Regions from separate parts of the Homo sapiens genome. Here all the other regions are reported to be linked to region 3. Evidence: microRNA targets listed by miRTarBase, many of them from high-throughput screens and not tested one by one. Region 3 holds a microRNA gene; each other region holds the end of a gene's coding sequence.
The links. Region 3 holds the annotated microRNA hsa-miR-140-5p (CAGUGGUUUUACCCUAUGGUAG, at 5,384-5,405, shown strand). A microRNA usually pairs through its seed, bases 2 to 8, with sites in the 3' UTR of a target mRNA and lowers its output. Matches are read on the target gene's strand: a 7mer-m8 pairs with bases 2 to 8, a 7mer-A1 pairs with bases 2 to 7 and ends in A, and an 8mer does both.

Region 1: the mRNA of SIRPA is a reported target of hsa-miR-140-5p. Seed matches in the 3' UTR shown: 7mer-A1 at 5,888-5,894.
Region 2: the mRNA of PRDM1 is a reported target of hsa-miR-140-5p. Seed matches in the 3' UTR shown: 7mer-m8 at 5,667-5,673, 7mer-A1 at 5,082-5,088 and 7mer-m8 at 5,053-5,059.

Annotation. Positions count from the first base shown.
Region 1 is chr20:1,933,195-1,943,900 of GRCh38, reverse strand. It overlaps SIRPA (signal regulatory protein alpha), which reads right to left. Exons shown (of 8, transcript NM_001040023.2): 7 at 9,147-9,186; 8 at 3,309-6,581. The coding sequence ends at 6,333. Among named protein-coding and RNA genes, the nearest start is that of PDYN-AS1, 8.7 kb to the left of the region's middle. RefSeq lists enhancers at 3,211-3,710, 3,711-4,212, 5,726-6,278, 6,279-6,833.
Region 2 is chr6:106,103,392-106,114,097 of GRCh38, reverse strand. PRDM1 (PR/SET domain 1) reads right to left here. Exons shown (of 7, transcript NM_001198.4): 5 at 8,165-9,273; 6 at 7,599-7,727; 7 at 4,160-7,187. The coding sequence ends at 6,612. Among named protein-coding and RNA genes, the nearest start is that of PRDM1, 22 kb to the right of the region's middle. RefSeq lists enhancers at 7,896-8,609, 8,610-9,324.
Region 3 is chr16:69,927,720-69,938,425 of GRCh38, forward strand. It overlaps MIR140 (microRNA 140), which reads left to right and starts at 5,362; the gene lies at 5,362-5,461. WWP2 (WW domain containing E3 ubiquitin protein ligase 2) reads left to right here. Exons shown (of 24, transcript NM_001270454.2): 12 at 1,729-1,810; 13 at 2,411-2,539; 14 at 3,433-3,508; 15 at 3,790-3,861; 16 at 4,083-4,171; 17 at 6,251-6,410; 18 at 8,134-8,267; 19 at 8,593-8,733; 20 at 9,399-9,519; 21 at 9,829-9,933. RefSeq lists silencers at 2,584-2,741, 5,943-6,133.

The sequences.
Region 1 (10,706 bases), not on the chromosome of region 3:
TCTCAGCAGCGCTCATCCCTGCACTGGGATTGCCAGTGGCTCTGGTTCCCTCATATATGAGCTCATATGGGTGTGGTCCATTTTTTGTCCACATTGTGTCCTCAGAACTTTGCACAGGGCCAGGTTCCAGTAGGAGCTTGAGAAATAATTACTAGTTGAAAGATCTTGAACTTATTACCTCTCCACCTCTCTGAGCCTCAATTTTCTTCCCTGTGAAATTGACATTCCATTTGTAAAGAATGTGAAGGTTCCATGAAGTAAAGAATTCGAGTGTCCAGAGTCCAGCGTGGCACATGGTAGGCTTTAGTCTCCCTTATCCTAGGGGCTGAATCCCAAAGGTAGAGCGTGAAGTTCTGGTTTGGGAGCTCATGTCTGGTCAAGAGGACACCAAGTCACTGGAGGAATGACTCATGGTGGGGCTAGGGAAGTCAAAGGAGTTGCTATATAGTATTTCTTGGGAGAGGAAAATCAACCTGGCCAAGGAGTCCAGCAGGGGCTGGGGAGGAGCAGGAAATGTTCTTAAACAGGTCAGGTGGTGGTATAAGGCAGAGGACTCCGAAAACCAAGCTGGGGTGTTGCACCCCATACCCGAAAGGTTGGTAAGAGAGACCTATCTCAGGCTAATGAGAAAGAGAGGGACTTGATAAAATTATTCGTCAGAAGACCCACCATTGCAGCGATGCTCTAATAACCTGGCCTGATATGTGAGTGTGTGGGTGTGAATGTGTGTGTGTTTCTGTGCATATGTCGACTGCTGTCTGCACCACACTGCTGCAAAGAGTCTTAAATCTACTTTCTCATCGAACTCTCGCAAGAACCCCCGGAGGTGAAGGCTGCTACTATCCCTGTTTCACAGGTGACAAAGCAGAGGCCCAGTGGTGAATCTCTTTGCCCAAGGTCACAGGGCAAGGACTCTGGGGTGCAGTTGTATCCGATTCCAATGGGTGGAGGAGGAGGAAAAGTGATGGAAGGAATCTCAGGAGATGAAGTGATAACAGATAATGGCTTATGCTTGTAGCCATCCTTAATCTTTGTGCTGTTTAGCATCTTTCACTGTTTTCTGTGCTGTTTTGATCACGGGGATGTTCATCTTTCCAATGAACTCAGCGACACTCCTTGGGCCCCTCACTGGGGCCAGGCCCTGGGCTGGGTTCAGCTACCGAAGATAAGGTGTTGACACTAACTTTAAAAAATAGATTGGCCGGGGGTGGGGAGGGGCAGGCATCAAAGGTTGAGGGGGACAGGGCTGGGCATCTATCTTTTAAAAAATTCAAGGCATAACTTATATACAGGGAAATGCACCCATCTTAAATGTGCAGCTGGAAAGGTTTTTACATATGCAACCTCCCAGATAACCACGACTCAGGAAGACGTAGAGCATGTGCCACCCCAGGCTTCTCCTGGTCCTCCCTCCAAGGGCAGCCACTCTTCTGATCTCTGTTGCCAAGGTTTTGCCTGTTTTTGAACATCAGGAGCACGTCTTCTTAAAAAGCATCTTCAATGTCATAATCTTGTATTCAGAAAAGAAACCAAGAGCCTGGTCAGGCACAGTGAAGAGGGTGGTGAAGCGGGGTGGTGTCGGGGATCCCAGCAGTGGCAGGCTCAAGGGTGCCTCGGCTGGCTGGTGAGCAGCCAGGCAGCCATATCACCCTGATGTTCTGACACTTTGGTGGTGAGATGTGGTGTTTCTGGCTACTGACAGTGTCCAGTGTATCCTGAACATTATCTATGCCCCCCACTTTCTCACTATCAGCCCCAGCCCCCATCATATGCCCATTCAGTGCTGGACTAGACCATACCCACAGTGGCGTCACTTCCCGGATGGCGACCTTGGAGCAAAATGCTTAATCTCTCTGTGTTTCCATTTCTTTATTAAGTGGGGGATAATCATAGTACCTAACTCATAGGTTTGTTAAGAGAATAAAGTGAATTAATTTTAATAAATACTTGTCCAGAGTTTAGGAGAGTGTCTAATATGTAGTATGTGTTTATGCCAAAATTAAATAAACCTTCGTCAAAACTTGGCTGTTGGAAATGTGCTAGAAGACACATGGGCTTTTACAGTTGGGCATTCAAATCTTGGGGTTGGGGGCCAGTGGAGATTTTCCTGATTATCACGTAAAATGGGCAGGGGCTTCAGGTGGAAGGCAGAGGACTCTGGCCTGGTCCTCATGGAGGAAGGGAGTCTTAGCATTCTCCTTTGCACCAGGAGGAACCCCAAGGAGGTGTCCGATAAATGCCAAATGCTTGACTGATTTCCTGGAGGGCTGGAAAAGGGCCACTTAGCTCCCATCAACTTTCATTTCGCCTGCCAGCCTCCAGCCCTGGAGATTTGGCCGTGGAGAAGCAAGGCCCAGGTGCTGCATGAAATACACCCACCAAGTCTCCTTGTCTGGACACGCAGTCCATCATCCCCCACCTTCCCAGAGAATGGAAGGCATTTCCCCACCCACTCGGCCTGGATTCATGCCTTGAACACCCCATTCCTGCAAGCAGTGCACATATTTCATGGGTTGCTCCCGGAGGGAGGCGGAGAGCTGAACTCAGGCCACGGGCCAGGAAACTGCTGAGCTGTCTGTTACAGCCAAGGTCCTGGCCTGAGAGGAGGGTGACCTCTCTGAGCCCCGCAGAAGGCTCCTTGGTTCAGGTGGTCTCTGATCACATGGACCAGGCCAAGGGTGTAGGGATGATCCCCAGTGGGCTTGTGGATCTGAGTTCAAGTCTCAACTTGACTAAAGACTCTGCGTGAGATTGGTCATGTCACATGCACTTCCAGAACCTCATCTTTCCTTCTTTGCAAAATGGGCACAACCACAGCGATCTGATAGTCATGAGAATTAAATGAGGCAGTAAGTACAGTGTGGGGGAGAAGAGTCAGATTCCCTGGCTTCAAACTGCTCTGCCATGGGACATTGGAGAAATGACTTCTCCGTGTCTCAGTTTCCTTATCTGCAAAGCACAGAGAACAAGAGTTCCTCCCTCATGTAGCTGGGAGAAGGAAATGAGTTCTAACTGTGAAGCACGCGGCAGCACACTTGGCATAGCTGTTATTAGCTATCATGGTGGTTAATTTTGCAGTCAGTGGTCCATACATGACGTATTGATTATTAACCCAGTGGCTAAGCATCAGGCACTACAGTTATCCAGTTGGAACTGGAGGCTCAGTAACATCACTCATTAGCTGTGTGAACCTGTGTAAGTTGCACCCTCTCTCTGTGTCATCTACAGTCAGTAACATAATTGCCCTTGAGTCACAAGGTTTAAGAATTCATCAAGGTAAAGCGTTGACACATAGTAACCACTAAATATTAACATATTTATGCCTTAACTTTATTACATAATTAGCACTAATATCATTAATGATCTAATGGAGGGATAGAAAGGAAACTAACATTTATTGAGCACCCACTATAAACCAGCACTTGACATCAGTCATCTGGCAAGGATATTACAGGACAAGCATTAGATGTCTGCATTTGGTGGGGAAGGAAAGTGAGGCCCCAGGAGGAGGGTGAGCCGGGTGTCCGAGATCCCATCAGTGGTGAGAGGCCACGAGACTCAGCTATGCAGGGTCAGGGCAGGAAGGAAAGACACAAGCCTCAGTGATGGCCTACCCAGTGCCAAGCGTGGGCTCAGTGCTTCCAACCTCCTTGAATCCACACAGTCACCCTGGCAGGGACTATTCCTGCCCCATTGTGCCGACGCGGGGCCCAAGTCTCAAAGAGGTGCTGTTTGAACTCCCACAGCTACAAAGCAGCAGAGCCGAGATCCAAACTCAGTTGTCTATATGGAATTTTATCTCAACCTTACACCGGCTCCTTCTGAGCCAGGGCAAACAAAAATTGTACGTCTCTAAAACCTACGTGAGGGGCTCAAATGCTGTAGGTTGTTTCCAAACCCTGGGGTCCATTCAATCCTCTTCCAGGCTTTGGCAGGAGGGCAGGCAGGCCCCGAGGCGGCCCCGGGACGCACTCACAAAGACAAGAATACTGAACACCGGAAGGACTCATTATTACCCAGAAATCTTTATTACAAAAATATTTTGCAAGCCAAAAAGTTTAAGTTGCAACTATATACAAAATGGGGCCTGTTTCCTTCCCAGCAGTCTTAAAATAAACTCCTGAAACCATGCTCCTTCCGCAGGGTTGGTTCGACCTCTTCCTTTTCCTGGGGTTCAATACACAAGGTATGTGGATTCTCCAGGTTGCCAGGCTAAAGCTAAAGCTATACATCTTCCTTGGCCTTATTCCCTTATTTCCCCCTCCAAGAATTAAAAAATAAAATAAAATGAAAATGGCACCAAGAAAACATTCTTTTAAAATACTGAATGTGTGTGTGCATGCGTGTGCACACGTATGTGCTGTCTCTGGGTAAAAGAGAGGGAGACGAAGGTTTACAAGCCAATCTTTTGGAATTTGGAACTAGCCTGAGCCAGGTGGCTGGGTCACTGTGGCTCCCAGATGCCACACGGGAGCTCTGGCCAAAGCTGTCCACATGGTCTGTTGGCTCAGCTAATTCCTGGATGCCATCATTGAAATCACCAGGTGACCATCCCCCAGAGAGCTGGGTCTATGCTGAGCTCCTGCAGTTTCACCTGTAGGACCTCCAGGAATGGGCAGGATGGCTCAGCTACTTTTACAGCCTGAGCCAGAAATCCCTTGGGCATCCCAAGGCCAGGAGTCATGAACATTAGCGTCTCAACTCTAAGAGTTATAGTGAAGACTGAATAAATAGGGCTTGCGACATCTGCTTGCCCTGGGCCCGGTCAGGCCCTCACACCCGACTGGAAGGGTGGGGGTTAAAGGGTAACTGGGTCACACCCTCTGGCCAACCTTCTGGGACAGAGGGGGAATCAGCCCGAGCTTCACAGCTGCACCATCCCCCTGGCTGTCTTCAATTTATTCCAGTTTGATCCCAGTAGGGTTTGAGAGCAGAAATGGAAGATTTCTTCTTCAAGGATCAGCTCAGAAAGCCGGGATGGGGGCGGTCACTAAAGGGGTAGGATAGACGGCCAGGGCCACTATCCCTACCCTCTGTGTGTTCCTAAAGTGCTTATGAGAGGTGGTGGGGAGGGGTGTCATCTTCACTATCCCCACTTTACGGATGAGCAGACTGAGGCATTGGGTCTCGATAAGACTGCACTGTCAAGAGGCAGCCCTCAGCAGCCCTGGGCAGGCTGGACTTACCACAGCGGGGTCACAGAAGGCTGCACTACCAGCCGCGTGGCTCAGCTGAGAACATGGCCAAGTCAGTCCCAGCCAGAAGGCTGTGTCTCCAGGGAGTGGCTGACCTGATCCTTCTTGCCCATTCTTGGGGTTCTGGGACTTGGAGGAACTCAAGTCTTCGCTGTAAGAAAATCCCTCCAGGACAACAAACTGTTAAACCTCAGACTTCACAAGACCCAACCATGGACTTCAACACATGACAGACAGCCAAGATCACGTTGCTGTTGTTTTAAGAAAAAAAACAAAACAAAACACCACAGATCAAGTTTTCTAACACCTCAGTTTCAAGATTGCACGTTTCACATTTCTCAGTAATTTACAGGCGTCCACAGCGAGATGTTGCTTAGTGCTAGCTGGAGGGGCAAGCTCAGGTCTAGAAGGGAGAGATGGGTCCGGGTGGAGCAACACAGTTGGGCCCCAGGGAGTCTTGGAGGGACCCAAGGAAGCAGAGGGTTTTGTCTCCAGTCCTTTGGGAGGGGTCCTCTCCTCCTCCAGGACTCATGGCTCTTTAGCCTAGGGATGGGGGAGGCCAGGACTGTTGGCAGCAACCTCACCAAGCCTGGATATGGGTTCCAGAGTTTTTTTCCAGCTTTTCCATGGAAGGGGCAGTTTGATCTAAAGGGGAAATCTTCCCCACTCTAGCCCCAGTTGGGTGGTGGTGGTAGTGGTGGTGGTGGTGGTGGTGGTGGTGGTGGAGGTGGTGGAGGTCAGGGGAGGTGGGATTTTCTCCTCCCCACCCTGGAAGATCAGGCTTCGGAGCATCGGGGAGGCAGTCGAGGGTCTTCAAAACCCACATGGTGATGGACGGAGGCACAAGAGTTCTTGGACCCCAGGCAGTTCTGGCCACTTCCCAGGTTGGTTCCCTGGCTGGTTTGGCAACGTCAGCCTCCAGGTATGTGGCAATGTGGGGGGAGGGGGCCGTGGCTGCCCAGGAAGTGCTGGAGAGCCAAGGAGGGGTGGGGAGAGAAGAGCCACCCTGGCCCCTGGGTCCCAGAGCCTGCACCGCCCCAGCCCTCCGGGAACTGGGTTGGCTGTGCTCATCACGGCGGCTCCCTGTGGGACAAGAAAGCGCGTAGAGATGGGTGCTAGAGCAAACCACGGTCCCATTCACTTCCTCGGGACCTGGACGCTGGCGTACTCTGAGAAGGACGGCTCAGGCTTGGGGGCCGGCTGCTTGGGGGTCCGGTTGAGGTGGACCATGTCCAGGTCAGCATAGGTGAGGGTGTCCTCCGACGCGGGCTGCGGGCTGGTCTGAATGCTGGCATACTCCGTGTGGTTGTTGGGCTCCGCAGCCTGGGGAGCAGGCTTCTTCCCCTTGGGCAGGTTCAGGTCTGCATATGTGATATCATTTGTGTCCTGGATTTAAGATACCCAAAGAGAAAGTCATGAGAAGGTCATTCTATAGCCCCTGGCCCACTCACTCAAACTGAATACCAAGTCTGGATGCTTCTGTGTCCTCTCGGCCCACACTGGCTCAGCCATAAGTCATGTTCCCCTCATCTCTTGCCAACGTTACTTGCCTCCAGCCTTGCCCCTTCCCATCTGCCCTCCTCCTCACCCTGCCTGAAGGGTCTTTCTGACCCGCACAGTGCAGTCTCCTCACAGCCCCGCCTCAGTGTCACCTCCTCCCGTTCCTGCCTCCTCCTAGCCTGAACCACCTGCAGTCTTCACCCATTTCTCATGTTCATCCCTCGAGGGTGTCTGTCCTGCTTCTCCTTGTAACAAATCCCAATCCACCATGTAAATTTCAGATGAAGCATGGCTCATACTAAGACCCTCCCTGGCTCTCCCCTCTCCTGGCAGGGTCCATGTTCCTTCTTTGTGCTTCCTCAGCCCATGTTTGTTTTCCATCACAGGGCCCGCTACCCAGGACCATGTCTGTTTGGGGGCCTGAGGAGGTGCTGCTGATGGTGGTACGTGTGGGGACATTCATTAATGTATGCGTTTATTCCACAAATATTCACTGGGCATTTGTTATGATTCAGAAACCAAGGCTGGCACATAAGAAGTCTGATCCATATTGAATGAATATATGAGTGGATGGCAATAATTTCACCTTCACTCAGGGCAAAGCTGGGGACAGGGAGACAGAGAACAGGGGCAGTATAAGAACGAGATCGCCAGTTAGTGAAGCGGGAAACGTTCTGGAGTCAGAAAGCCTGGGTTTGAATCCTGGTTCTAGCTCAGGGATTTTGAGCAATTCACTTAACCTCTCTGGGCCTCAGTTTCTCCATCTGTAAAGAGGGGATGATAATAGTGTCTACTGCCAGGGTTGCTGTGAGGATGGAATGAGATTATCCAGGTAAAGCGTTTAGAACAGAGCCTGGTACCTATTGAGCATCTGTCTTCAATAAATGTTCGCAATCATTAACCACTTAGCAAACTTGGATACCTCCCATGTGCTAATCCTATCAACCTGCCACTGCCGCCTCAAAAGCGCCCATCATGAATGATAAACTTTGCTCCCTCTGTGACTGGCCCCTGCGTGATAGAACAGAATAAAGCTACCACCAACCGGCACACCTCCTAGTTGGTGCACGGTAATGGCTGATTTCAGTTCTCAGGGCTTACAAGCAGCACACAATCACATAGATCACCCCATCCACTCTTACCACAACCCTGCTTGGGAAGGATTATCTATTCCACTTTACGGCTGAAGACACTGAGACCAAGGGAGGTTCAATAAAGTGGACAAAGTTGTCCGGCTGGCAAAGAACCAAAGTGTGTTGGACTCTACGACTGTGCTCTTAGCACACAGCTCCTCTGTCCTGAGCCCTGCGTGCTCTCATTTGCTTCTGTCTGGGAAATCCGTGTTGACAGCGTGCAACTCCCTCCCTGGCCAGGGCTGGCACCTGGCACTGGAATCGCAGGCACTCTGCCAGCTGGGCTGTGACTGTCTGGCTCACTGTCCAGTGCGTGGCACACAGTGGGTGCCCAGTAAGTCTCTGCTGTGAATTTCGTAGAGGTTTCCATGACCCATTCTTCTCACCATCATTTTTTTCCCCCAGAAGATTCCAGGAGGAAGTCCAGAAGTAAAATGATGGGGGAGAAGATCTCCCTCGCTCATGACTGGAAATTGTTTTTTCTTAATTACAACTCGAGCTCATGTCCGGGGCTGCGGGGGGACCCCATGGGTCACAAGGGCAGGGCCAAGGCATTTTGGTCTACAAATGCTGCGCCTTTCACCAGCCCGACTCCTTCAACAGATTACATCTAAAAAGATGACAACTGCCTTGGAAATGTCAAGGACAGCTGGCGCGCTCTCGTTCCGGGTTCAGAGCAGGGCCTGTCTTGTTACAAGATGCTGAGCAGCCCTCTGCCTTCAAGGTCTGACAGCATCAGCCGGTGATAAGCAGGGCTAGGTTTCTCAGAAACCGTGTTGCTGCAAAATCATCTCAGCAATGCTGACCAGAAACCTCCAGCTTGAGTGAGTGTGCCCTTGTGTGAGGTAATTAATGACATGGGGTCTTTCCATCAGCAAAGGTGGGAGAGGCCCTGGCAGGCTGGGCTTTGCAGTTCCAGCATAGAAAAGCCTGGCTGTGAGGAGCGGGCAGTGAGCTGGGAGTGGCGCTCCTGGTAGAGGGATGGGCCTGGGCAAATGTAGAGAGATGGGAAGGCACGATCCACACTAAGGGAGCTGCAGCCTGACTCCAGGGCACCATTTTCATAGGACGGATTGTGAATGGTGCCCCTGGGGAGTTGTGCAATGGGTCGCACTGAGTCATGAGGCTGCAACAGCCACTCTTGGCTGCAGTAGAGAGAAGGAATATGCACAGGACATGGGGAAAGCTAGGAGTGTAAGATCCTCCACCCTCCACCCCACAAGGAGTCTTAATTTAGAACCAGATCTGCAATTCCGGTTGATGTGAAGCAACCACGCCACGGAGTTTCCCAGGAAGGGCATCTCACCAAGGACTGTACCTGTGTTATTTCTCTGGCATTCTTCTCGGGCTCATGCAACCTAAAAAGGAAAGAGACACACAGATAAAAATACCCTCACTATCTCAAGTGCTCATGCAAACTGATAAGAATAACATTTAGGCTCCATTTTCTATATGGGTTGAGGACATGAACGAAGGACTCATAACAGAAATACAACTGCATATCAAATGTTTGGACAAAGGGGTCAATCTCACTAAAAAGGAATTCTAAGCAATGCACTATCATTTTTTTAACCTACTCTATTGGCAAGGATCTTTAAAAATTATAATACTTGGTGCTGGGGAAGCTATGGTGAAATGAACTGGAGCTTTCATACGTCACTGGTGGGAGAGGCAAACCAGTACAATCCTTTTGGGAAGCAGCTGGCAAAATCAAGAGCTTGGAAGATGTCCTCATCCTTTGACTCATAATTGCACTTTTTTTTGGGGGAATTCAAAATATAGAAAAAGCTTTCAACACAAAGGCATTTGTCAAGGGCTGGATGGGGGAGGAGGTTTATGTCTTAGGGCTCTGCCAATTGGGACTGGTTAGGGAAATTAGGATAAATCCACAGATAAAGATTTAAAAGGTTTATGAGGAGGTTTTTTTTTTAAGTTAAAATTGCTTACATTAAAATGATAAGTGAAAAAGGAAAATTCTCTGTAGGATTATCTCAATTATGAAAAATGTGTGGATAACACTGGAAGGAAACATAGCAAAATGCAAACTGCAGTGGTCTTTGCATGGTATTTTTTTTCTCCTTTTTAGTTTCCCATATTCTCCAAATGTTCTGTATTATAAACATCTATGTATCATCATTAAAGAAAGAAAAGAAAAAGACCAAGATGTCCAAGTTAATCAAAGAAGTTGTTCGTGCACTTGCTTCTGTAATTGGAGGTCATGACTTGACTCACTGGAGGGTCACGGTCAAGGTGATGAGCAAACCAGAGCCACTGGCTTGGCAGAAGTTGTGTAAATTCTCAAGCCGGCAACCCCGGGGATGTTAGCATGGATAATGTCAGAAATGAGCAGTGGGGCTTGGCAGCAGGGTTATTAATGGATTTGGCATGAGTGCTTGGCTCTGAAAGCAGTTCTGAGACATGACAAGCCCCACGTGGCCACAGAAAGAACCCTCCAGGAGCAGGGGCACGTCTGCTGGGGAAGATCACGCAGATCTGTCCCCACACTACTGGCCTCCAGCCCTCCTGGAGCTTCCCACTGGCTGGCTGGTTCAAGTCCAACTCATCGCCCTGCTCAGAGTCCCACGTGGTCTGACGTGCTGCCTCCAGGCTAATTCACTGCCCTGCCCTCATGTACCCACTCATCTGCCCACCAGATATTTCGGGGGGGGGGTGGCATTTGATGTTATGTACTTCATGCTTCAATAGCAGCCTCGAAGGACCCCTTTGATCATTTTTCCTCTTGGCTAACTTTCCTGTTTCCTTCAAGACTCAACTATGGTGTCACCTTGTGATGGCTCTGCTGACAGTGCTGCGCTGGCTGGGCTGCCCCTCCATGACAATCTCAGATCTCCTGTCTATCTGCATATCTGGTTTCTAT
Region 2 (10,706 bases), not on the chromosome of region 3:
TATGTCCATTAAAAGAATCTTGATTCCTTTCAGATGAGCATATTAATTCCTGGGGAAAGTTCATGGTTCTTACAAATTAGCAGGACCTTTGCAAGCCCACTCACTTTTGCCAAAAGAAGCCACAATAGTTGTTTCCATACAGACTTGCCCCTCATTTTCATTTTCTCCGACATCTGCTCTCTAAATTACAAATATCTGCCTATAGCAACAACCGGAGTTCCAAGGAAAACAAATCAAAAGGAAATAAGAGAAAACAGTGGAATCTGAGCATGTTAGGAGATGTAAGAACATCTTCCAAAGAACAGGAAGACAACCCAGGAAATGACTCCTTCCTTTTAAGGACCAGGAAACTGTGGCCCAGCGAGGTTCCCGGACTTTCTTGGGAGCACACGCTTAACCAGGGGCTGAATCAGGACTAGAACCAAGCTCCCTAAACTCCTGATATGCCGCTTTTTCCGTGATGGTAGGAGCTCATCAACTCAGTTCCCATCTTGGGTGTATTTTTAAACTCTGGCCCTGAGAGCCATGGAAGAAAGAGTAAGTGACCCCATTAATGATCCACAGTTGGTTGATCTCACAGCAAATCACTGTCAGGTCGCTTGTACTAAAAACTGGAGAGGCAAGATAGGGTTATGTGGAAGGGGACTGCGGTGTGTCTCATTTCCTTTGCCTGTGGATAGGAAACAGTACTCAAGGGAAATAGTGCTGATGAGTGGAGAGAACACAGAGATGGTCCCTTCTCTTCTTAAGTGATAACTGCGCTGAAAGGCTGCTAGCCTGGAGGTTGCTTTACAGAGTGCCACATGTAATGCAGGTGACAGTGGCACCATGCCTCATTTTCAATTTCAGACCCTTCCAGAAGCCCTGGGAATTCAAACATTGAATATCTCTTAAAATATTTTACAGAATATACAGCAAAATTAATTTCATGATATCATAGACTCTTCCTCAGAATCAGACGGGCTCTCCAGATCTGCCTAAATACACAGCATTTCCAAGGAAGCCTCAGGAACATTAAAGAACATGAAACACTAAAGACCTAGGAAAAGCTCACCAGAGCATCTTGTTCATCCTGTGCTTTCAAACACACGGATTCCTCTCTAAGCCCTGCAAGGATGGGGACTGCTCCCTCCCATGGGAAGGAATCCATTGTGTTACAAACCCTAAATGTAGGTGTTCGTCTTGGTGACTTAAACCAAAGTCCCCTCTGCAACGCTTTAATTTCATTTCCTTTGTTCTGCTCCTTACCCACAATGGGGAAGAGCTGGTTGCCATCATCCACAGGTGAATCCTTAAGACACCTGAAGTTGGGGAACTTTGCCACAATTCCATGAGAACCCCCTTTGTTAACATATTGAAGAATTTCTTACCAAGATTAGCCATTGCTATTTATCTGTCATTTCTCCTTTCTTTTATGACGGGGGTAGGGGAAAACCACAAGATGACTACATTCATGTTTATGCTGAATAAAACCTATCGAAAATTCAGAGAGAAGGAAAAGTGCACACAGCCAACCCTGGTTCATTACTTGTCAAACCTGGAAGGAAGAGCAAACTAGGAGAGGGTTTGTTAGTTTATAGTATGCTGTAAAACTGGGAAAGGGAGAGTGACTATTTGCATAAATTCAGTTAAAAATAACTTTTTGGAATCTTGCTGCATTTTTGCCTGAATTACACGATTAAGACTGTATTGAGATTAAAATCACTTTTCACTTATTTAAGGAGCAGCTGTCAGCAGCACTTTGAGCAAATGAACTTGGGTTCTGAGGACTTGAAGCTTGAAAAATGATGTTAGGGAAGCTTATCCACCAATCCTAAAACATTTCTTGTAGCCACTTCATACCCAGAAGTAGATTTGATGGCCACTGTTCATAATGATCTGATTTCTTCTGGCCAGAAGCTGAGAATGAAATGACATGTTATGGACAAAGAACTCCATGATCTCTGAAAGGAAACAGAAGTGCCTTCTGGACTGGTTCAATGATCACATTCTATCTAACTCTTCTGTTCATCAATTCTTTCAGCTGCTGCCTTCTGTGGTACAGCCTTCCTTTCTAGACCAGATTATCCTGGAGGCCTGGTTTTGCATTAGAAATTATCTGCCATGTGCCTCTAATTACTTTCATTCCTCTGTTCTGGCCTTTTCTCATTATCTCCTTTTAGAGAAGGCATCTCTCTCTCTCTCTCTCTCTCTCTCTCTCTCTCTCTCTCTCTCTCACACACACACACACACACACACACACACAGAGGAAGGAATGAGCTCATTTATACCAACTTACGGATCCTAAATTGATTTCATTTCCCCCAAGGAAAAAATATCTAGAAATGTGCCTATAGACTCCCACGGTGCTGTATATTCTATATATTGCCTCATGGTAGGGAATTAAATGCATCATTTCTGCACAGAGTTTTTATTTTGTTGAAGGTAAACTCAGAAAAAGGTGGCTTCTTCAGTCTTACTTTGTCCTACAAACAGCTGGATGAAGTCTTGATCCAACAGTATGGACTTTGGCTGGGTGGACTTGGGCTCATTAGTGAATATTATCTTTTTATGTAATGTTTCATTAAACAGCTAAGTCCATAAGTGTTCCCAAGATATATAACTCTCAAGAAAAAAAAAGAAAGAAATGATTTGCCAAGTAAAGAACTATGATTTATGGTAGTTAGCTGTTACTCTCAGGATCCTATTGGGCTTTGTTTTGAAAAATTATTACCACAATGGTTCTGTAGAATTTAGGAATATAACCAGCGCCGTTTGGCACGTTTATGACAATAGGGTTCTGGTTTTCTTAACTCCACAGTTACATGTTGGCAGAATTTCAAATTCTGGGCACAGATGTTTAAGTGAATTTAAAGAAGAAACATTAAAAACAAAGCATCAGGCAGTTTTGAGTGTCCAAATGTAAGCAGGAGCATTATTTTCTTAACATGCAGTCAGCATGCGCATAAAACCATAAATTTGCTAATAGATGAAATGGGAAGCATGAAAACCACTTGCAAAGGGCTTTTAGATTTTCTTTTCACTGAATGAACTATCACTTTTCTAGAAGCATCTCCTACTTACATCTATCAAATGAGACTCGAATTTATGTGAGCCTTTTCTCTGGACACAGGTTAGTTTCTGGAGCGTGAATGGCTAAGCACATAGACTTGTTCCCATCACATAGGGCCACATGGCCATACCACCAAGATACCTGGCTCTCACACTAACAACGCTCAGATTCTGGGAAAGCAGCTTTCTGGAAACTTTTTAAATGCACAAGTAGGCTAGGTGCGGTGGCTCATGCATGTAATACCAGCACTTCGGGAGGCCAAAGCAGGAGGATTGCTTGAGTCTAGGAGTTGGAGACCAGTCTGGGCAACATAGTGAGACTGTCTCTACCAAAAACAAACAAAATTAGCTGGGCCTGGGGGCACGCATCTGTAGTCCCAGCTACTCGGGAGGATGAGGTGGGAGGATGGCTTGAGCCTGGGAGATAAAGGCTGCAGTAAGACATCATCGTTCCACTGCATTCCAGCCTGGGTGGCAGAGCAAAAACTGGTCTCAAAAAAAAAAAAAAGAAAAAAAAAAAAAAGGACAAGTAGCAAATAGCAAACGTGCTTACATGTGAAGGAGTAAACATGGGTTGTAGGGCACTCCCCATGGCCTGCCCAGAGGAAGCTACTGAAGCCGCTGTCACCAATGGGCAAAGTGTTCCCTGACCCAGCTTCCCAGGGCCCCACACCCATAAGTGTGCTGAGTCTCCACACACGCACACAGACTGGCACAAGCTAGCAGGGCATTTCTGGAAGTGATCCAAGTCCTCCTTATCTGCTCACCACCCCATGTCCATTGACGAAATAAAATGTAAAAGTTCACAAAGCAAACAAATCGTCTCCCACTTACTGGCTGATGCTTGAAATGCTTCCTTTAGAGAACATTTTTATAGTTCATAAAGAAAAATCTTAGTTATGAGAGACAAATCAATGCTGTCAGATCACGCACAAATATACTCCTGGAAGGAGCCGGGGGAGATCAGGGCACCCCAGAGGGTGCTGCAGAAGAACAGGGGTGGGGGCAGGGGAGAGACAAATTGCATTGTGTTCAAAATTTGTTCTGGTGCCATCTGTACAGTATGGAGATGTCGCTCACTGACCCTTCACTCAAGACACTAGACAAATTTTGGTAAAGCATGAACATTTATATTTAATTTACATTTTGACAATTTGCACATAAATAACATTGTAAACCAGTATGTAAACATAAGATAGTTTGTTGTTCTAGCAAAGTAAAAAGCCAGTAACTTTGGTCAGTTTTAACTTTGAGTAGAGGAAAAAATAAAACCACTGTTGATTGTGGGCTCAACATTCACATGTAAGAGGCAGAAAAGAGAAGGATGGATGGTGAGAGAAGCAAGAAGTCTTTATAAAAATTCTCACTATGGGAAAGCACAAAAGGAGAAAAAGAACAAACGAGTAGTTGGGAATCAAAAGTATTTGGTCTAATGTCAACGTGATGCTTTGGTTTACCTTCAGTTAAGGACTGTGTTTATCAAACACTGATACATAAAAAGCTGTCAGTCTTGGAAGTTACAGAAGACCAGTAAGGCTCTTGGGTTTCCCTGGATTATTCGAAATTTGTTCTCTTCTACAGGTGAACATTAGTTGATGTGAACAAAATGTCAAATATAATTATAAAATAGATTGGAGTAATGTATCAGTATTTAGTAAGGAGGAAAACAGAAAAATTGCAGCGGTAAAGTCAGTTTTTTATTTCTGTGACTTGGGTGTGACCACATAATCATAAAGTGGCAAAAAAAAAATAGAGCTGTCTTAGATGGTCCTTAATACTAAAAAATGATGTATCTCTTCCTCCCTGGTTGTTTTGTGGTCCCCACCACTGCACCAAGGTTTTAGGGTCTCTTACAGTAGGCAAGGGTGCCCAATCATACCGACGTGATTGTGAGGTCACCAAGTATTAAGCAAAGTCTCAGAAAGGAGTGTTCTTTTTTTTTTTTTTTTTTTTTTGCCCTTAGAAAAAGTAGATCTTTTACATGGCTTGGCTCACAATTTAAGTGGTTATAAATATATATACATATGATATAGTGGTATAAATAGATTTATAAATATACATCATTTTTTGCTACACTTTGAACACCAACATGTAATCTTTGGGCTTAGCAGAATAAAAGATAGAATAACACAAAGTCTATCTTGCTGGAGCACATTTACTCGGTTTCTCCTCTAGAGAAGCAAATCATTAGATAAGACATCATTTCCTGCACTACTGGACACACTCAATGAGGTAACTGTTGTTGAACAACTTTGCAATGCCCTTTCATCTTCCATTAAATTAACCATAAAATGTAAAAACACAAATACTGAGGAAAATCTGAGTTTTACAGAAAAAATACAATTGATGTGTTGGGGATAGGAATGTTCATTACCCGCTTTTACCCCAAGATGACTAGAATACCCGTTTTTTGTTGTTTGTGTGTTTGTTTTTAAAGTGTGGCCTGAGCCTATCTACCTCGAATCCTTCCTGGTAGAGCACCATGTTTGTGCAATTTTGACATTAAAAAAAAAAAAAAAAAAAAAGCAACAAAAACCAACAACAAAACACCACCCAGACTCAAGCCCCCAAATCGCACACACACAAAGCCACCTATGCTTTGGGGAAATTTTCGCAGTGGTTTTAAAACATGGCATTTTTTTCTTCTTCACATTTTCTGATAATACAATGGATGCAAAAGTCATGTGGCCGCTCTGAATGGCCACAGGACTCGGTGGGGAGGGCAGGGCGGTGGGAGGATTCTGCTCTTTTGGAGGGAGAGACAGGTTGGTAAAGCCTTCCTGTCACCCTTCCGGTAAAATTGTGGCTGGGGGAAAAACATGAACTATCAACAAAAATATACAAGATTCCCTTTCTTGTTTCTTCTACTTAAGTTATTCTTGGGTAATCCTGCACACATACCCCCAAGTTATGTACAATGCTGTTCAAATGATAGGATCCCAGGAATGAACACATCAACTGTCCAACATTGGCAATTACCCAAACCTCATTTTCAAACCATTATTAGAGAGAGAGGTTGACTGAAGTCATATATTTGTTTAACTAAATCTTAGGTACTTATACAGATGTGCAGAAATTATCTACAAAGAATGGCCACAAGACAAAAATACATTTATACTCAAATTACAAGGAATCTTTCCAGTCATTGTAAACTTTTTTAATTATTGCTTTCTGAATGATAAATTGTATAATAAATTATGAAGGATTATCATTGAAAAAATAATTATGACTAGGTAATAGTCTTAGTAATGGGAAGGCTATGCAAACATGTCCACACAAATATTCAAAATACACAGGGGCAAATATATAGACACAGGTGTAAATAAGTATATATAATATGTATACAGATATATATATATATATATATATGGCCTTTGCCTTGTTCATGCCCTGAGATTTCAGTAACTTTGGAGTTCCTTCTTTAATTCCAGAGGTGAGGGGAAACCATTTGCTGTCGAGAGAGCTTTGCAGAGCTGGGATTATGTACAAGCCACTTCCTACAGGCACCCTGACTCACCAAGTCATAACTTAAGAAACAAAATAAGTGTTTTCTGAAAATCTTAAGGATCCATTGGTTCAACTGTTTCTTGTTTGACCTTTACAGGTACCAGAGGTAGTGGGTTGCTGGGAGGCAACTTCATGAGGGGTAGATCTGATGACTCATAAAGGCTGCACCCTGAGGAGAGGAGTCCATTCCCCATGTTTCTTTGCAAAGACACTTTCAGGCCAGTTTCTTCTTTCTCTTTTCTGACCACGGCCAGAATTTCCTTCTCCACTACAGAGATCACACTGATGTCATCCTCCACGTCCTCGAGCCGGTCAGCATTGTCACTGATGTCAAACTTCTCGATTTCTTCATTGATTCGGGTCAGATCTTCCAAGGGCAGCCCAGGCGCCGGGGCCGCAGCGCAGTTCCCTTTCAGGTGAACCTTGAGGCTACAGAGATGGATGTAGTTCTTGTGGCACTGGGAGCACTTGTGGGGCCGCTCCCGGGTGTGCAGACGCTTGTGCAGTTTCAGGTGCACAAACTGGGTGAACTTGGCAGGGCACACCTTGCATTGGTATGGTTTCTCTCCAGAATGGAGTCGCAGGTGGGTCTTGAGATTGCTGGTGCTGCTAAATCTCTTGTGGCAGACCTACAGTGTAGGGGAGAGAGACAGCAGGGAAGGGAGACAGGAAGGCCAGAAGATTAAGAGTTGCCAACGGGAGGGGCAGGCTTACCGGCCAACGCCCAGCAACCTAGGAGGTGAGAAGCCTCCTTGTGGCACCTCCAGTGTGGTATTAAGCAAACGGGGGGATGTGGGCACACAGCACACGAGGGGCTGTTTATTTCCCCTACCATTTTCCCACCCACTGGAAGCTGGCTGTGCCATCTCAAGTCATCAGCAGATACAAAGTACTGGGAAGGACCATAGTGCCATCAGTCCAGGATGGGACAACGCAGAATCTGGTGTTGGCTTTAACTACGGGCTATATAGGACATGGGAGGGTGACTCACAGACATTTTCTACAAAGGTCAGAAGGTCTACCCAGAAAATACTGCGCACCTGGCATTCATGTGGCTTTTCTCCCGTGTGTACCAGGTAGTGTTTCTGCAGGTGGGCGAGCTGAGTAAAGCCCTTGTTGCAAGTCTGACATTTGAAAGGCCGTTCTCCACTGTGCACTCTCAGGTGGACCTGGGAAGAAGCCACATGTGTTAGCTCTGCTCTCAAGCTGGCTCTGAGACCTAACATTTCTGCTCCAAGACTCAAGTGTTGATGCAAATATCTTAAGAAAAGCATCAAGACAGTCTTAAAAAGAAGAAATCTTCATGTTTTCAGAATGGTGTTTTTCTTAAAAGCACAAAAATCACAGGCTAGCAGGGAGTTTCACCTAATCTTCTAGTCCAAACCCCTAATTTTTTTATTATTCAGAAGAAAATCAGGAGAAGGGAAGTCACTTGTCCAAAGTCAAAGAGCTAGAAGTGGCAAAAGCCAGGCGGAATCCATACCCACTATCCCCAACCGGGGGCTCATACTACTGCAAATGCAATCGATACCCCATGGAAAGCAAGCTAAATACAAACACAAGCATGCACTCACAGCCCCTTGGACTGCTCTCTCTCAAGGCCTACCTTCAGATTGGAGAGCTGGCCGAAAGTCTTGGCGCAAACGTTGCATTCGTACTTGATCTTGCCGTTCTGCTTCTTCAGCGGGTAGGGAAGGGTCTTGTAGCCGGTCATGTTTCTTTTGTTTTTAATGAGATTCATGGCTTCGTCGCTGCTGGGGGCTGCCATCGCTGCTGAGGTAGCTTTGGGCTGCACCACATGTTCTGCCGTGGCGGCTGTTCCCGCCGTGGGAGACCCGCTTGTGGGGCTACAGGCCTTGTCCTTCATGCTGGCGGCGGCCCCGGTAAAGGAGAAGGCACTGTGGGGCGCCGGGACAAGCACCTCCCTGGGATGCTCCGGCTGGAGCAACCTCCGGGCTCCATCTGAGGGCAGCGAGCTCGGGAGAGAAGTGGGGTTGAGCATGGGGTGGGGCAGGCTGCCCCCACCGAGGAGATTGCTGTAGACAGGGCACAGCCTCGGGAAGAGGCCAAAGTTGTTGATGCCATTCATGCTGCTCACAGCGCTCAGGCCATTACAATTCATGCCGTAGGGGGGCAAGAGGAACTTGGGGTAGTGAGCGTTGTACGAGGGGATGAAAGCTGGCGGGAGGTGGGGCAGGGGTGCGTAGCCAGGGTAGGAGCCCAAACCTTCCGTGCCGTAGGACGCGTTCAAGTAAGCGTAGGAGTCCCGGTGCTCTTGAGAGCCGGGGCCCACAGGGGACACCGTATTCCCAGGGCTGCTGTGAGGGCTGGAGCTCTTGAGGCTTTGGTCGGGGCTGCTTCTTGCAGAGGGGCTTGGAGTGGTGGAGGATGGAATGGGGGAGCGAGTGATGTACGTGGGTCTCTCGATCCCGTAGGCCAGGGAAGCTTTCAAAAAGTCTTCTGGCAGAGGGGCCCGGATGGGGTAAACGACCCGAGGGTAGAAGGGCATTTCGGGGCTCCCACGTCTTCTAAAGTCATCGAGGTCCTTTTCTGATGTGAGGGGTGAAATGTTAGAACGGTAGAGGTCCTTTCCTTTGGAGGGGTTGGAGTCCAATTTTAGGATTTCTTTCACGCTGTACTCTCTCTTTGGGACATTCTTTGGGCAGAGTTCATTTTTCTCAGTGCTCGGTTGCTTTAGACTGCTCTGTGTTTGTGCTGAAATAAAGAAAAAGGGGCGATTACACAGAGGGCTAGAGAGAACTGAAGCAAAACTGCCAAAGTTGCTCCTCCTTCTTGAGAAAACCTGAGTAACAGCTGGCGACACAATCGCCACATATCTGGCTTCCAACGCACTCTCATTCTAGAAGGCTCTGGGCCACTCACTCAAAAGTGCAGTTCCGTTTCCTCCTCAGCAAAATGCGGACAATGGCAGCACAGACAGAACAAACAGCAGCCTTGGGTGATTCTGTTTTCATTAGTACAGACCTTATGATAGAAAATTGCTGTTTAGGCTGGAGTAAGATAGCCTAAGCTGGATGCAGTGGCTCTTGCCTGTAATCCCAGCACTTTGGGAGGCCGAGGTGGGCGGATCACCTGAGGTCGGAAGTTCGAGACCAGCCTGACCAACATGGAGAAACCCCATCTCTACTAAAAATACAAAATTAGCTGGGCGTGGTGGCGCACACCTGTAATCCCAGCTACTTGGGAGGCTGAGGCAGAAGAATCGCTTGAATCTGGGAGGTGGAGGTTGTGGTGAGCCGAGATTGTGCCATTGCACTCCAGACTGGGCAACAAGAGCAAAACTCTGTCTCAAAAAAGAAAAAAAAAAAAAAAACTTCCATTTTAATGGAGTGGAAAAATACTGGGGTGGGGACCCTGTCATAGGTTAATAAAAGTCTTTCTGATGTTCATGGTTTACCTAAAGGAAATCAGCATACCCTGAGAACTAAATGTGAAAGATTAAGACTCATTTCAAGTAATACACAGTCATCAATTTTCGCTTCTACTCTTGTTGAATACGAATTTGATAAAGCCCTGTTCAAACTGCCTATGCCAAGGAGCTTAGCGAAGTGAATACCACCTTCCTCGCGATGTGCAGACAGCCTAAGCACTTCACCAAGGCTCTGTCTGGTCTAGCCAGGATCCCAGCAGTGCTGGCCCCTGGAGTCACAAGGCGTGACAGTCACCTCTGCCAAACCACAATAGGTACTTCCTGAGCCAGTTCAATTACTTAGCGCACCCAAGAAAACAGAACAGGCTAAGAGGAAAGCACTTATTCCCAAAGACGGCACGTTATTACTTGGTAAAGATACTATTTAGGAACAGCAGCAATGAGGACAGTTCTAGACTATCCCTGCCACAGCCAGCCCTGTCTCCTCGCTACACAATAAATGATGCCTTCAGGAAAAAACACCCATCTGGGCAGGGAAAACTGAAAATTCCCTGCTCAGCCTTGCCTGGAAACCAAAAGTAAAACATACGATGTTTAGTTTGAGCTCTGATTATTGGAGGACAGTCACTCAAGCCAGGACACCTGCCCTAGGAACGCACTGAAGGCATTGGCTGTCAATGTGTGGAGATGCCTTCAGAGGCAGCAGGTTTGGGGGATCATGCTGAAGCCTTTGTGCAAATATCCTTCATCGTCTAAA
Region 3 (10,706 bases):
TGGAAACCTCTTGGGAAGCCTTCCTTCTGTGTGTTCTGAGGTGGTGGTAGCTCTGTAACAGCTCTGGGCACCTCCTGTTCTTTCTTTCCTTTGGCTTTCTTTTATTTATTTTTTATTTACAAAATAGAGATGAAGTCTCGCTGTGTTGCCCAGGCTGGTCTCGAACTCCTGGGCTCGAGCGATCCTCCTGCCTCAGCCTCCCAAAGTGCTGGGATTACAGGCGTGATCCACCGTGCCCAGCCTGTCTTTATTTTTATTTTATTTATTTGTTTTTCCAGCTTTACTGAGGTATGATTGACAAATAATGTCTGTTTGTAAAATTTCAGTCGAGTCATAGATACCAGGTAAGGCAGAGAGTGGGAGGGAGACTGAGGCCTTGGTCTGGTGTTGGGAGCACTGCAGCTCGAGTCTTGGAGTCAGGAGGGGGTTGTTGCACTTCCCTGTTCTGCTCCTTTTTCAGCTTTCTGGTTCCCTGTAGCTTCTGGAACTGATTATTTTTGTTTCTTTAATGCTGCCCTGTCTTGTAAAAGGAGAGCCATTAGCATCATTTGTTTTCAGGAGAGAAGCAGATTTGAAGGCTCAGGAACTTCCTGGGAAAGGTGACCTCTTTTGAGCCAAGAGCTTTACCCCCTAGTTTTTTGTTTTTTTTTTCTCCTGTCTACCTGGAGCTGAGAGGTTATCCCTTTCAATCCCTCTCAAGGTCCAGAATCACCAGCTAGGGTTGGGTCTGCCCCTGGAGCACAGACTCCTCCCTTGGGGACCCCAGAGCCCTTATCAGTATATCAGTAAAGGGCAAGAGAACAGAGATTGTTCAGAGCAGAGGAAAAGTGTATTTGTTCCCCAGCCCCACTCCATGAACATTCCCCTGTCTCAAAGCACATACTTAGGCCTAAGAACAGGATAGGCAGGCCAGGCACGGTGGCTTATTGCCTGTAATCCCAGTACTTTGGGAGGCTGAGGCGGGAGGATCACTTGAGGCCAGGAGTTCGAGACCAGCCAGGACAACATAGCGAGACCCTGTCTTTATATAAAAAAGAAAAAAAAGATACAAGTCTAAGAAGAGGCTGGGCAGTGTAAGTGTCCTCAGCCCCAGATATCATTTATTTGCTTATAAGCAAGAAAGAGGCGTGCCAGGGTATGAGAGTTTTAGAACAAGACTTAGCCTGTAAGTGGGAGAAGAGGGAGAACTTGGAGGGTACAGGGGCGCAGGGTGCAGAGCACTGATCAGAGAGGTGCGAGGGAAATGCAGCCACTCCATAAGGACCACGCCCTGTAGGACAGAGGCGCCCAGGTTAGCTGCATGCAGTGCAGAGGGTCCCAGGACCAGGGATCAGCTGTGAGGGACTTGGGTGGGGGGCCTGGCGGGTTAGGGACTGCCCGGCTTCCATGCTGCACACAGCTGGGAGCAATTATGCCTCTGGTTTGAGCTGTGCTGCTCCCTCTGGGTGGCCACACCACCCCCTCCCTCCGACCAATCAACCAAAGAAGTGCTTCATCTCGAGTTGGAAGTATGTCACCCCCGCCCCCCACCACCAACAAGGAAGGACCCTCTTTGTCCCTTTCCCAGTGACAAGTGTGAGTGAGCTTGGCTTTGGCTGGTTCTTCTCTAACAGGCTGACAACAGGGAGATAAACTCAGACCCAGCACCCAGGAGGTGGGAACCTCAGGGAAAGGACACCGGCTCTCCGTGTTTGAATCTGATGTTCTTTCTTTCTTCTCATGTGGCAGAGAAGAGACAGGACAATGGACGGGTGTATTACGTGAACCATAACACTCGCACGACCCAGTGGGAGGATCCCCGGACCCAGGGGTAAGGACTTGGGCTGAGAGGGGGGCCGGGCTGGGCTGGGTCTCTGTGCAGCTCCAGCACTGGGCAGGTGGCTTTGGACTGCATCGTCCCAGAGGGCTGATGTCAGGGACCTTTAGCCACACACAAGTGTCTTGAGACTCTCACCGTACAGATACACTGTTGGCCTGATGAGAGCTTAAAAGGGGTTTCTTAAATAGACCTTCCTGGTGGATGGAGGGCGGCCCGGCTGGCGGGTGTTGCTGGTCTCCATACTGATTGTGCTGGCTGCTGATAATTGGATTGCAAAAAGGTTGAGGGCATCCTGGTCTCCCAACACCCCCAAGTGAAGCTGTGCTGGGGCACAGGGTGCCTCAGGATTGCTGGTGGCTGCTCAGTCCAATGCCATCCATGCAGGGCTGGGTTTTTGGCCATGAGATAATAAGTGACCTCTCCGTGCTGCAGAACTGTTCTCACGACTTGGGTCATGCTTCTTGGGTGCATGTCCTCAAAGTCCCTCATGGGCTCTGCAGAGACAAAGCCACACTTTGAGGACCCAGCCTCCAACCACCAAGGTCCAGAAGGTGGGGCCAGCCCTTCACCCTTTTCTTCCCGTGTTTCCAGGATGATCCAGGAACCAGCTCTGCCCCCAGGATGGGAGATGAAATACACCAGCGAGGGGGTGCGATACTTTGTGGACCACAATACCCGCACCACCACCTTTAAGGATCCTCGCCCGGGGTTTGAGTCGGGGTAAGGACTTTGTGCAGGTAGCAGCAGTGTCAGGAGCCGAGGCCCAGGCTGTCCTTGTTCTGGCTCTGGGAGGCCCACTTTGGGTGGCCCCTGTGGTGCGTTCTACTGCCCTTACTGCCCTCTAGTGGCCAATGTTGATGTCATATTAAAGGGGATGGGAGGATAGCTTGAGCCCAGGAGTTTGAGACCAGCCTGGACAACATAGCGAGACCGTGTCTCCACAACAATAAAAAAGATTAACCAGGCTGAGAAAAATGGCAAGACCCCATCTCTACAAAAAAAAATTAAAAATTAGCTGGATGTGGTGGTGCATGCCTGTAGTCCCAGCTACATAGGAGGCTGAGGTGGGAGGATCCCTTGAGCTCAGGAGTTTGAGGCTGCAGTGAGCTATGATGGCACCACTGCACTCCAGCTCAGGTGACAGAGTGAGTCCCTGTTTCTAAAAAATAATAATACATTTAAAATTAGCTCGGTGTGGTAGCACACTCCTGTAGTCCTAGCTACTTGGAAAGCTAAAGCGGGAGGATCGCTTAAGACCAGGAATTCGAGGCCGCAGTGAGCCATGATCACACCACTGCACTGCAGCCTGGGTGACAGAGCAAGACCCCGTCTCTAGAAAACGAACAAACAAATAAATAAGATGGGATGGGGAGGAAGGGACTATCCTGTTTATTCCGAATGACACTAGAGTTATTTCTCTAAAAGCAAGAAGTCTGGCTTTATTTCTAGATTTTCTTTTTTATTCTTCAAGGATCTTAATGACAGTCACTTCCTCACCTTACATTACTAATCTTTAAATTAACATAGCACCAGCTTTCCTTAGGGCTGACAAAGACAAATTGTTCATTTTCTGAGAAATCGCATGAACCCCTGAACATCTTTGCTCTTCCTAGGACGAAGCAAGGTTCCCCTGGTGCTTATGACCGCAGTTTTCGGTGGAAGTATCACCAGTTCCGTTTCCTCTGCCATGTGAGTTCTGGTACTGGGGCTCCCGTGGCAGTTGGGGTTATTGAGTTATTTCAGTGTGAGTTCCCGGCACAGCAGCAGGTATCGGAATGTTTGTGTCTTAGGCGGGCGCAAGACACTTGTCTAACCCGGAGCTGGCTGTCTCTAGGAAGCTAGTTTTCATTCCTAGGGCACATGCTATTGCCTCCTGGCCCAGCAGGCTGGGGAATGCCTGTTCATACAGACAGGAGAACAGATGACCACTTGAGGCTCGATTTAAAGTTCTTTTCTTTTTTTTTTTTCAGTCAAATGCCCTACCTAGCCACGTGAAGATCAGCGTTTCCAGGCAGACGCTTTTCGAAGATTCCTTCCAACAGGTTAGATCATGGTGCCCGAAACCAGTGGCAGGCCGACGCCCTCCTCCCAGCACCCCATCTCCTATCGCGTGGCCTGTTAAACCCACACTGCAGACTTTCCAGGGCGTGAGTCTTGGTGACTGTGTCTGCTGGATATTGGGCCTTAGAGTCCCCTGTCCCTCCCGCCCCTGCCTGCTGTGGAAGGGAGAGTGGCAGGCTGGCCCGATGCTCTGTCTTCCCAGATCATGAACATGAAACCCTATGACCTGCGCCGCCGGCTCTACATCATCATGCGTGGCGAGGAGGGCCTGGACTATGGGGGCATCGCCAGGTGAGCTTGAGTGCCCCGGAAGGCTGCCCTGTACCCCGCTTCCCCAGGCTACAGCATCAATGGCCAGAAAGCTGCCTGCCCCCTGCTCACATTCCCTCCCAAAGCTCTCATGCATCTTCAGGAATGGGCACAGTGTGGCATTCAAAATACGTGAACCCGCCAGGCGCGGTGGCTCACGCCTATAATCCCAGCACTTTGGGAGGCTGAGGCAGGTGGATCACCTGAGGTCGGGGGTTCGAGACCAGCCTGACCAACATGGAGAAACCCCGTCTCTATTAAAAATACACAATTAGCTGGGCGTGGTGGTGCATGCCTGTAATCCCAGCTCCTGGGGAGGCTGAGGCGGGAGAATCGCTTGAACCTGGGAGGCAGGAGGTTGCAGTGAGCCGAGATCGTGCCATTGCACTCCATCCTGGGCAACAAGAGCGAAACTCCATCTCAAAAACAAAACAAACAAAAAAACAAAATACGTGAATCCATGTGGCCAGTCCATTGGGCCTGGAACAGGGGCCTGGGGTGCCCCACTGGGCTGGACATTAAGCCTTTAGTTACTGGGTCATGAGGCGACGGAGGACTCCTGGGAGGGGCGAGAGCTCAGTACAATGGCTCTGTTATCTACCAATGTGTCATGTTTCTGTACTTTAACAACCAGGCCAGCAGCATCTGGGCAGTTGAATATAGGGGCCATGTGGTCATCCATTAGAGTTGACCCTGGGATCCCCTCCTCTTAAGGCAGCCAGGGCAGGTGAAGTCAGGTGTCCCCGTGTGGATAAGCTGTGTCACGATCCACAGGGCCTTGAGCAGGGCTCAACTGCATGTCACATGCCTGGGGTCAGTAAAACTGTAACGGCTTATGTCACCCTAAAAAGAGTCCAAAGCATTGTCTTGCCTTCACCCTGGTCCACCCATAAAAGTTAACAGGCCCTCTGGGAAATGCTGCCTTGGACAGCAGGGCAGAAGGGCCCCGGCAGAGAGAGAGAGCGCTGTGGCCCGCAGCGACCTCTCCGCTCGAGACCTCTCCCGGTGTGGGCATGTCTTCCCGCTTGGTGTTGGGTTAACTTGCTTCTGGTCCTCTGTTCGGTGGTGGCGTTGCCTTCTGCGCTGGCCCCGTGGATGGATGTTCCTTTTTTCCGTGGTGACCTCCTCTCCAGGCTCTGCTTGGTGGGCTTCTGGTGTGGCCGCGCCCTGTGTGTGTCTCTCTCTGTGTCCTGCCAGTGGTTTTACCCTATGGTAGGTTACGTCATGCTGTTCTACCACAGGGTAGAACCACGGACAGGATACCGGGGCACCCTCTGCGTCGACGGACTCCTCGTCTGCCCAGCCACAAACAGCCCAGCAGCTGGGGACTGGCCCCCTTGGGACATCCCCTTGCTGGTTTAGCTCAAGCCCAAAAGGACTCTGAATTCATGCCTGAGGCTCGCACCCAGGGCACGGGTGTTGGTTCAGATGAATGCGTGGAAGTGTGGGAACGGGGATGGTGTTGGGGTCTGGGGGTGAAGGGAGGGCAAAGTGCAAGAGTGTTGCATAGCTGGTGGGCATGAGGTTTCTCATCTGAAGGCAGCATGGATTACATTGTCATGGATCGGGGTTGGAAATGTGTTGCTGTGTATTTACGTTATGTTGCCCGCCCAGGTAGAGTGGAAACAGGGTAGTTACTATTCAAACAGAACCTTTGCAGAAAAATTATTGTAATAAACATGCATCGTGCCCTTGTGCAGTGCACAGCCTAGGCAACTGAGCATGGTGACCCAGGGTACAAGGACCCCCTTTACCATTAGAAGCTCTGGATATTGTGATGTAAAGTCTTGGAACACATCACCTGGGAGCCGACAATCACACGTTTTCCCAAATATCATCCTCAAATGCAGTTGCCGCCCTGGTTCACTGTAGGTCTGAGCCTGCCCTGTTCACTGACCAGCTGTTCATATAGGTTAGCCCGGGTGCTTGTCACAGGGCTCGACTCCCTGGGACACGTGTCCCCATACTAACCTGAGACACGATGGTGAAGAGACACAGCTCCTGTGCAGATGTGCACGAAGGGACCCATTATTCTTGTCTTTTCTGTCTCTTCCCTCACAGAGAGTGGTTTTTCCTCCTGTCTCATGAGGTGCTCAACCCTATGTATTGTTTATTTGAATATGCCGGAAAGAACAATTACTGCCTGCAGATCAACCCCGCCTCCTCCATCAACCCGGACCACCTCACCTACTTTCGCTTTATAGGCAGATTCATCGCCATGGTAAGGGGGCCCCAGGGGTCTGCCTAGTTCCCTCCTCCTCTCCCTCCTCTTCCCTCTCCTGGTGAAGTGTGCCAGGGGCACCAGGGGAATCTGCTCTTTCTCTGAGACCTCCAGGAAGGGGCAGCATTGGAGGAGGCCCTGGGCCTGTTCACCAGGAGGCAGCGTGGCGTGAACGGCAGCCCCCGTGGACTGGCTCACCCTCTCGGGGCTCCACCCTTTGCCCCCATAGAGCTCGTAACCTAAAAATGCAAGAAGCTAGAGAGAGTTCTGGAGAAACCAGAGCTTTCTCAGTGGCTGCCCTGTAGGTAGTGAAGAGTTTCCATGTTGCTTTGTACAGGACTTGTCAAGAGGGAGCCCAGGGTCGCTGGGCCACAGACTTTACTGAACATTAAATATGTGCTCTGTTGAGGGCCTTGGGATGACAGGGCCAGGTGAAACCATAGCTGCCCACCTGCTGCCTGTCTCTGGGAGGTGACACTGTCACGGCATTTGGGAATGTCCCACTGAGACACTAAGCCTTCTGGAAGGGCATTTGGAATCAACACTAGTGTAGAACAAAACGTAAAGTCTGTGGCCCAGAGACCCTGGGCCCCCTCTTGACAAGTCCTATGCAAAGCAACATGGAAACTCTTCAGTACCTACAGGGCAGCCACTGAGAAAGCTCTGGTTTCTCCAGAACTATCTCCAGCTTTTTACATTTTTAGGTTACCAGCTCTATGGGGGCGAAGGGTAGAGCCCAGAGAGGGCGCGCCAGTCCATGGGCGCTGCCGTTCACGCCACGCTGCCTCCTGGTGAACAGTAGACTGGCTGGTGCAGGGTGTAGGGACATCTGTCAGAAAGTGAGCCAGTTCTGGGGAGGGGCGTCCCAGCGTCTGTATTTAACTGGAAAGAGGGACACAATGTGAATATGGAAAGGGAGGTCCTGCCACGTGCCCCGTTGAGGGTCCTGGGAGCGTGGAGAACCCGGATTGAGAAGCGGAGCCCGTGGGAGGCACAGCGCGGGAGCCACATGCATAGCTGGAGATGTTTCAATTCTCCTTTCCTTCGCTTCTTCCCCTGCCTTCCTGAGTGTCCCACCCGGCTCCCCTCTTAGGAGGACCCAAGCGCCCCATGAGCCTGTGACTAAATATGGCCGGCCCTTCCCATCGTCGAGGAGTTCTTGGCCAAGGTGCTGGGCTCTGGAAATGGGCACATTCTTCCCAGGTCTAGAGACCCGCCTGGCCCAGCAGCCAGCAGGACAGACCGGTAAAACCCTAGACTATTACTCACCATTGGCCGCCAGCTCTCGCTGTCGGCGGTGTCTGCATTATTTTTGGCTGCCTTTGCCACCCACCCTGAGCGCCAGTGAATCAGGGCTGCCACCTGCAGCTGTTCAGAGCAAGCCTTTTCTGTGAGCGTGGGGCAGACCTTTGCTAGGCCAGGAGCCAGCCGGCCAGCGTGCGGGGCAGATGCGGGCCCGGACGTGGGTTCCCGCACCAGCTGGCTCTGCCCAGTCCTTGCGGTCTGCAGGGCAGGGTGGGAGTCCCTCTGTAGGTACAAGTCAGGATAAAGGCGTTGTTTACTCCTGAGGCCCTCCCGCTGCGTCCGAGGCAGCTGCTGCTGTAGTTCTGTCAGGGAAGGAAGGCGGGTAGCGGTAGCAGAGTTTGATACCGAGCATCTGAGAGCTGGTCTTGGCAGTGCCCAGGGAAGGCCAAACCTCTGTGCTGTGCCTCTTCCTTCCCAGGCGCTGTACCATGGAAAGTTCATCGACACGGGCTTCACCCTCCCTTTCTACAAGCGGATGCTCAATAAGAGACCAACCCTGAAAGACCTGGAGTCCATTGACCCTGAGTTCTACAACTCCATTGTCTGGATCAAGTGAGTTCCCTGCCCCCTTGCCCCACCGCGCTGATAGGAGGGACGTCTCTGGGTGGGAAGCAGGTACTGATGGCCTTTATTTTGTCTGCCAGTGTGGCCCCTGAGCTCTTTTCCAGCCTCTATAAGAGCTTGTGGAGAGGAATGTCCTCTGGGTTCCCTGGGGACAGTTCTAGAACCTTCTCCTTGAGTCAAGGAGCTGTCCCCTGTCACTGTTCAGGATTCTAGGCCACCTGTGGGCCCTTGGTGTCCCACGGGCAACAGAGCAGGATCCAGGAAAGACCCTGACACGGTAGACATCTCCCCACTTGGTCTCCTGTGCCCCCAGAGAGAACAACCTGGAAGAATGTGGCCTGGAGCTGTACTTCATCCAGGACATGGAGATACTGGGCAAGGTGACGACCCACGAGCTGAAGGAGGGCGGCGAGAGCATCCGGGTCACAGAGGAGAACAAGGAAGAGTACATCATGTGAGTCTCAGGCGCCGGGGGCTCCGCTCCAGGGGTGGCGTGGAGATCTAGTGGGTTGCAGAGAAAGATGGGCCCCCACCTGTGGCCCATCGGTCACTGTGGATGCCATTTGCATTTGCCTTGATGGTGGCTGCTGGTGGGCGGTCATGTGATGGCGCGAGCTGGGGGAACCAAAGCCGAGGTCCTTAGTTACCGACTCCCAGCTGTGCTTTTTCGCCATGTGGGAGACTTCAAGCCTGCAGCGTGGAATTTCTTTGAAGTGGCATCAAGCTGAGACATCTGCATCTTTCTCCGGGCCGAAAGGATCTCTGTGGCCTGTGTGCCTAGACCCACCGTCTCACGTGTGCCCGTTCTCCGTGCCTGTTCCTCAGGCCTCTTGCTTTAGTCTTTATCTCCACGCTTCCATACGTCTGAGGTTCAGTCGGCGCTGGGGGCAGGAGCAGGAGGAGGTGGTGGTGAGGATGATTTCAAAGACTCCGGTGTCTGCAGGTCACTGTGAGGTTTTCAGGGCCTCACTCTAGGTCCTCCAGCAGGCTGGGTCTGGGTGTGCGAAGTGGGCTCTGCTGATCTGGTGGTCCTGCGCGGTAACGGCCACGCGGCCTGGCCGGGAGCCACCCCTGAGCAGTGGGTCTCAGACTCCACCCATGGCTGCTCTTTGGTCTCAGGCTGCTGACTGACTGGCGTTTCACCCGAGGCGTGGAAGAGCAGACCAAAGCCTTCCTGGATGGCTTCAACGAGGTGGCCCCGCTGGAGTGGCTGCGCTACTTTGACGAGAAAGAGCTGGAGGTGAGTGTCTGAGGTTGCTGGGACCCTGAGCCCCTGCCTCTGGGGCGATCCTGCTCTGTGATACGCTCACTGTGTACCCACAGACACTCAGCGTAAAACTCCCACTTCGGCAGGGCAGATGGGTTTGATTTGGGACCCACCCTTCCCCAGACACTTGTTTCAAGAAAGCAGGGACTTACATTACCCATATTATTAACGCTGACACCAAAAATAGCTAGTTGAATATGTTTGGGGTAATGTCAAGTGCTAGCGAGTGGACGATGCGCGGGGAGGGACCTGCCGGGGATGCTGACTGCCGCCTCTCCCCAGCTGATGCTGTGCGGCATGCAGGAGATAGACATGAGCGACTGGCAGAAGAGCACCATCTACCGGCACTACACCAAGAACAGCAAGCAGATCCAGTGGTTCTGGCAGGTGGGTCCCGGGCCCAGGCCTTGGCAGGGACATTTGGGCCATCAACCAAAGGAAACGGGTCCTGAGGAGGCCTCACGCGCAAGGACCTTCAGCTTTGGCCCTGTCCTTGCCTCCCACACCTTGCAAAAGGAGACGATAGACCAGCCTTGGGATGAACGGGGACAGTTCCAGCTGAGTGGTGGCCAGTGGATGTGACAGGAGGTCGTCAGTGGTCAGCCTTGGGCCAGCTGGTGTGCAGGGACAGACCTGCAGGCAGACAGCAGCTGCCACTGGTTGAGAGGTCCCCTGCCAGCCAGATGGGACAGGAAGGCAGGGGCTTGGCTCCAGAAACCAGAAAGAGCTGTCATCCTATGTATAATTAATGTGTTGATTCTTTTATACGTATGGGTTTTGTTGTTGTCGTTATGAAATACAGCATACAAAAAAAAATAGCGATTACAGGTATTCTTAGTACATGTCTGTGTGCATATGTACGTATACAAATTTTTTGTGGAGGTGAAATTTGTATAACATACAATTAACTATTAATTTTTTTTTTTTCAATAGAGACAGGGTCTTGCTATGGTGCCCAGCCTGGTCCTGAACTCCTGGGCTCAAGCAGTCCTTCCATCTCACCCTCCCAAAGTGCTGGGATTACAGGCGTGAGCCACTGTGCCCAACCCATTTAAGTTTTTTAAGATACACAATTCAGTGGCTTTCCACTTTGGGTTCCTTGGCTTCCCACCCAGGCCGAGGTGGGCAGATCACTTGAGGTCAGGAGTTCAAGACCAGCC